Regions from separate parts of the Homo sapiens genome. Here region 1 is linked to region 2. A link means that fine-mapping ties the variant in region 2 to the expression of a gene that starts in the linked region. Tissue or cell type: amygdala. Region 2 holds a variant in brackets; the other region holds the start of a gene. All regions are shown on one strand. Distances are between the middles of the regions.

Region 1 (2,873 bases), 250 kb before region 2:
ACTACTGTCCACCTTTCCAACTCTTGTCTGTAGTTAAACCAATCTGGACATTGGCTGTAGTTAAACCAAATCAACTACCTGCTTATTCACAGCATTCATCGTGTCCTACATTTTGATACAACTATTTTCATTCATTCTTTAAGAATCTGTTCATGTCAGGTCCTGTGCTAAACGTGAACAGAAAAGTCTCCATCTTGCTTGTATTCCCAGCACTTTGGGAAGCCAAGGAAGGGAGGATGGTTTGAGGCCAGGAATTCAAGGCCAGACTGGGAAACACAGCAAGACTCCTTTACTACCAGAAATTTTTAAAAATTAGCCACTCATGGTGGTGCATGCCTATAGTCCCAGCTACTTGAGAGGCTGAGGCAAGAGCATCGCTTGAGCCCAGGACTTCAAGGTTACAGTAAGCTATGATTACACCACTGCATTCCATCCTGGGTGACAGAGCAAGACTCTGTCTCAAACAAGTCTCCATCTTTGAAATGTTCACAGCCTAGAGGACAAAATAGAAACAACCAGTCGATTAACCAGTATTTACTAAGTGCCTACAATTTTGAAATCATTGTATTGCTTTAACAAAGGCAAGTAGGTTCAACTCAAAACTTGTTCATACGTATCTCATGCGGTTGTTAAAAGTATGTTGCTCTTGTTTTTCCAACCCGATGAAGCCTGTTCCCAAGGCAGGGACTGTCTCCTCCTACAATCTCACAAAGCCAAGCAAAGGGCTGGGCACAAAGCGGGCACTTGGCAAGTCTAATGAAAAAGAACTGTTGAGAAAGAATACGAGTTCCTGACTCTTCCCAGTCCCCATCTTGTCAGAAGATGTCTCAGCCACCCTTCTCTGATTCAGCATCTCTTCCCATGAAGGGAAAGGAACTCGAGGGTGCTGTCTGTCTGGGATCTGTTTTTTCCACGCCACACTCCTATCCTCACCCCACAAAAGAGATCAGTAAACTGACAAGTGCCTACGGAGGGTAGAGAGGCCCCCTCCTTCTTTCCTAGCTGCCCCCCGACCCTGTGCCTAAGACAGCTCACCAACCCCACGGTTTTCAAATCAAACCGTATTGTCACCTATGGGTGACTTTGGGTCAGTCGGCGACACCTCGCTCTGAGCGTCAGTTTCCTCATCTGTAATAAGCTAATCATCTCTCAGAGGCTTGCAGGGAGGAATAAAATAGTGCCTGGCAAGTGCTCGGCGTACGCAGTCACTACTCGATACGGGGTAAGTGTTATCCTTTTGAAAGGCGGCAGGATGACAAAGCCGAGGGGGCGCAGCCTGAAGGCCCGAAGGAGGTTCGGGGCAGGCTGACTGAAGACAGAAGGCCGAGCGGGCTGACAGGGCGGAAGGCCGCGGCGGGAAATGCGGGAAAGGCGGGAAGCAGCGAAGGCGGGCGGGCGGTCTGGGCATCAGCTCCGGCGGCGGCAGCCCGCATCCCCTCACCTTCCTTCTCGCCCACCTCGTCCCCCCCTCACCTCGCTTGATCACATGCATCGCAGCTAGTGGCTGAGGCTCTGAAGGATCCAAGACTGGACTGCGGCTCTAAAGCGCCGGCGGGATCGAGAAGGTGACAGAGTGGGAAGGGTTAGGTTCCAGGCGCTGCTCAGGGGAAAGAACTGGAGTTGGAGCCAGACAGCACTTTCTTCAGAGCAGAGGCGCAACAATCCAAATCCCCTTCCCGCGCCCGCCACCCGTGACGCACAAAGGGGCGCGACGGGGTTCGAATGACGTTACTCGACGCTGCGGCCCACGCCCGGGGTAGGCTTCACAGACTGACAGGCGACGTGTAGCCGCCATGTTGAGTCTGGGCAAGACCCAGAAGACTACGCCTCTCCCATGGGCCCCATTGGATATGGACATGCCCGGCGGAAATGCTGCTCTCCTGCTACCATGTTTTGTGTGGGCAAGCCGAGTTCGGGACCCTCGGGGCCCTGGCGTAGCACCTAGAGCCCGCTGGGTCAGGCGCCGCCCTCTCACCTGCGCGTCTCCGCCGGAGGAAAGGCGGTTAATTTATTTTTGAAATAACAAAACCTAACCGGCGGGAACGTTTTTCTTGCTCTGACATTTATTATAATAATACTAACACTGCCGTCCGCTGTGGGCTCCAGCCCAGGCTCCACAGCCGTGGGCAGCTTGGAGCCCCAGGGCTTTTAGATCGGCCAGAGGACTGACACTCTGGAACTGGAAGAAAACCGCGCAAGGCCGATGGCGTTTGGATTTTATCCTGACGCAAATCAGAGCCCTGAGAGAATTTTAAGCAGGGCAGGGTCAGTACCCATTTGCTTTTAGGGTTCTTCAGTGGATGGTGGCAGAGACAGGGTATTTGCCTTGTGGAGGTAGGATGGACTTGGTGACTTAGAGTGGAGAATAAGAATAGATGAGAACCGTAATATGTAAGGCTGGTGTAGAAGCTTCTGATTTGGGCTACCCAAAGCGATCTTTATGAAATTTCATCTGTGGCATCTTTTCCCTAAAGCCTTTTCGTTGGTTTCTCACTGCCCTCCAGAAGCTGCCCAGGCTCCCTGTGAAGTAATTTCAAAAATCATGGAAAGTCGTAAGTGAGCCTGTAATTGCAGCATTTTGGGAGGCTAAGGCGGGAGCATCATGTGAGGCCAGGTGTTGAGATAAGCCTGGGCAACATAGTGAGACCCCATTTCTACAAAAAATAGAAAAAGTAGGCCAGCGCGGTGCTTCACTCCTGTAATCCCAGCACTATGGGAGGCCAAGGCGGGCAGATCACGAGGTCAGGAGTTCGAGACCAGCCTAACCAACGTGGTGAAACCCCCCCGCTGCTAAAAATACAAAAAGTAGCCAGGCATGGTAGCACGCGCCTGTAATCCCAGCTACTCAGGAGGCTGAGGCAGAAGAATCGCTT
Region 2 (2,908 bases):
TTATTGAGTTAATACGTGTAAAGCATATGTAAAACATATCTAAGTTGTTTTCCTAAATTATTATTCAGCAACTTCTCCAGGATCACACAGCAAGTAAATGGCAAAGATGAGAATTGGGGAAAATTTCCCCAGGGAATCCCGAATCAACTGGGCAGCTATAGTTGGGTTGCTCTTAGAATACCAGGACTGAGGAAGGAGAACTTTCCCAGAGGGGCATTATGCCAGATGATGTGGGTACTACCACTGGGCTTAGAAAATGTCAAAGATGCAAAGCTGTCCTGGAGGCTAACGGGACAACTATTGTTCTGCCTGCCTGGGAGAAGGGACCCTCTTGGAAAATAGGGCATGGCCATTGTCCACACACCCTTCATCCATTTAGTTCCTTGAGAGAGTCAAGAACAAAAGATTGGCCAGATGTGGTGGCTCACGCCTGTAATCCCAGCACTTTGGGAGGCTGAGGCAGGCAGATCACTTGAGGTCAAGAGTTCAAGACCAGCCTGGCCAACATGGTGAAACCCCATCTCTACTAAAAATACAAAAATTAGCCGTCGTGGTGGTGCTCGTCTGTAGTCCCAGCTACTCGGGAGGCTGAGGCAGGAGAATGGCTTGAACCTGGGAGGTGGAGGTTGCAGTGAGTCGAGACTGCGCCACTGCACTCCAGCCTAGGCGACAGAGCATGACTCCATCTCCAAAACAAAAGAAAAAAAATAAAAAAAGAAAAAAGATCAGAGGTTGTGACTCTAGAACTTTGTTTAATTTGTCACCTCTTTTTAGTTCTTTCTGCTGTCTCCTGTCTGGCCCATCAAAGCCCACAAAATGGGATATTGGACTTGTTTTGGGGGGCAGCAATAAAGAGGAGTAATGAAAAGGAGGCCAGTCACAGGGGCTCATGCCTGTAATCCCAGCACTTTGGGAGGCCGAAGCAGGTGGATCACTTGAGGTTAGGAGTTCAAGACCAGCCTTGCCAACATGGTGAAACCCCATCTCTACTAAAAATACAAAAAAGTAGCCAGGCGGGTGGCAGGCAACTGTAATCTCAGCTACTTAGGAGGTTGAGGTAGGAGGATCGTTGGAACCCGGGAGGTGGAGGCTGCAGTGAGCTGAGATCGTGCCATTGCACTCCAACCTGGGCTACAGGCCAAAATTCCATCTCAAAAAATAAAAAATAAAATAAAGGCCACGCACGGTGGCTCACGCCTGTAATCCCAGCACTTTGGGAGGCCCAGGTGGGCGGATCACCTGAGGTCGGGAGTTCGAGACCAGCCTGGCCAACATGGTGAAACCCTGTCTCTACTAAAAATAGAAAAAGTTAGCTGGGCGTGGTGGTGCATGCCTGTAATTCCAGCTAATCAGGAGGCTGAGGCAGGAGAATTGCTTGAATCTAGGAGGCAGAGGTTGCAGTGAGCAGAGA[T/G]CGTGCCACAGCACTCCAGCCTGGGTGACTCTGTCTCAAAAAAAAAAAAGAAATAATGAAGAGGAAACTGTGTTCTACTCCTGAGGCTGGCTGAGAGAGGGAAGACCAAAGGATCAAGAGGAGCCCCAAGAAGGCTGAGTCCCCTGGAGCCACAGCAGAGGCAAAAGAGAATTCAGATTTAAGGGTAACCTAAAGGGGCTGGGACTGGGGCTAAGCCAAGACCCCTGTGGATCACTGGTGAGCTCCTGGAGCTGGAGTTCAGTGAGGAATAGGCTGGGAAGACCCCTTTGGAATCCTCAGGGCACTGGTGAGATCAGTTCAGGGCCTTTCTCCTCTCACTCTCTGTCCCCTCCTCTCTCAGGGAAACTAGTCAGCTTTAGCATTTTGACATTGAGAGAGAGGGAAGAATTAACCAAGGGCGGGGGGATACCTGAAAACATCAAGGGAGTGTGGAGAAATTAACTAATGTTTATTTGCTGTACCCTAGGGCAATTTACGAGGGCTCCACATGCATTATGTCGTTTAATACTCACAATCTCATGCAGCACTTGCCAGTCCCATTTTATTGTTTTTTATTTGTTAGTTTTTAGAGACAGGATCTCACTCTGTCACCCAGACTGTAGTGCAGTGGCATGATCATAGCTCTCTGCAACCTCAAACACCTAGACTCAAGTGATCCTCCCACCTCAGCCTAGCAAGTAACTGGGACTACAGGCATGTGCCACTATGCCCAGCTAATTTTTGTGTGTGTATGCAGATGGGGTCTTGCTATGATTGCCTAGGCTGGTTACAAATTCCTGGGCTCAAGTGATTGTCCCACCTTGGCCTCTCAAAGTGCTAGGAATAGAGGCATGAGCCACCACGCCCAGCCATTCCCATTTTAAAATGAAACTAAGACTGAGAAGTTGGCTCTGTTATATGCTCTTACAGTATTCTGTACTTTTTTTTCTGGAGAAATGTTCTTGCTATGTTGCCCAGGCTGGTCTGAAACTCTTGGGCTCAAGCAATCTTCCTGCCTTATCCCCCTGAGGAACTAGAACTGGAGACAAACACCACCATGCCCAGCAGCACTCTACTTTTGTATGATTACCTGTTTAAGGTCTATCTCCCTTACCAGTTATATCAGGGCAGTTTTCTCTACTTCATGATTGGCATGTAACACTATGTCTGGCACCAAGAAGATTTTCAATAAATATACATTGAATATTTATGAATATGGGAGATCTCATATGACTAATCAAAGGCCATACTGTGTTACAACCATCCTAATCTGTCTCCAAAACCTGTCTGTGATCTCTATTCTACCCCACCAAGTGCTTTCATATTATCTCACTTCTAAATGTCCAGGTTCAATGTCCTTGTCTCTCAGCTGCTTGTAAGCATACATGCACACCACCTACCAAGAACTCACCTATTCAGGGAAAGCTAGTGAGAGAGTAGAAAAAAGAAACAGCCCATTTGGGATTGTGCCCTCTTCCTACCCTCTTCAAGTCAGCA

Evidence for each region. PIP is the estimated chance that this variant, and not a neighbour inherited with it, causes the effect.
Region 1: RRM1 starts here. The variant in region 2 is the best candidate, but not a certain one, in a credible set for the expression of RRM1 in amygdala (GTEx, PIP 0.79).

The regions. Positions count from the first base shown.
Region 1 is chr11:4,093,632-4,096,504 of GRCh38, reverse strand. RRM1 (ribonucleotide reductase catalytic subunit M1) reads right to left here and starts at 1,706. Exons shown (of 19, transcript NM_001033.5): 1 at 1,474-1,706. The coding sequence starts at 1,492. RefSeq lists enhancers at 1,477-1,946, 2,007-2,076.
Region 2 is chr11:3,844,893-3,847,800 of GRCh38, reverse strand. No RefSeq gene overlaps it. Among named protein-coding and RNA genes, the nearest start is that of RHOG, 5.4 kb to the right of the region's middle. The variant T/G (reference allele first, on the strand shown) is at 1,412.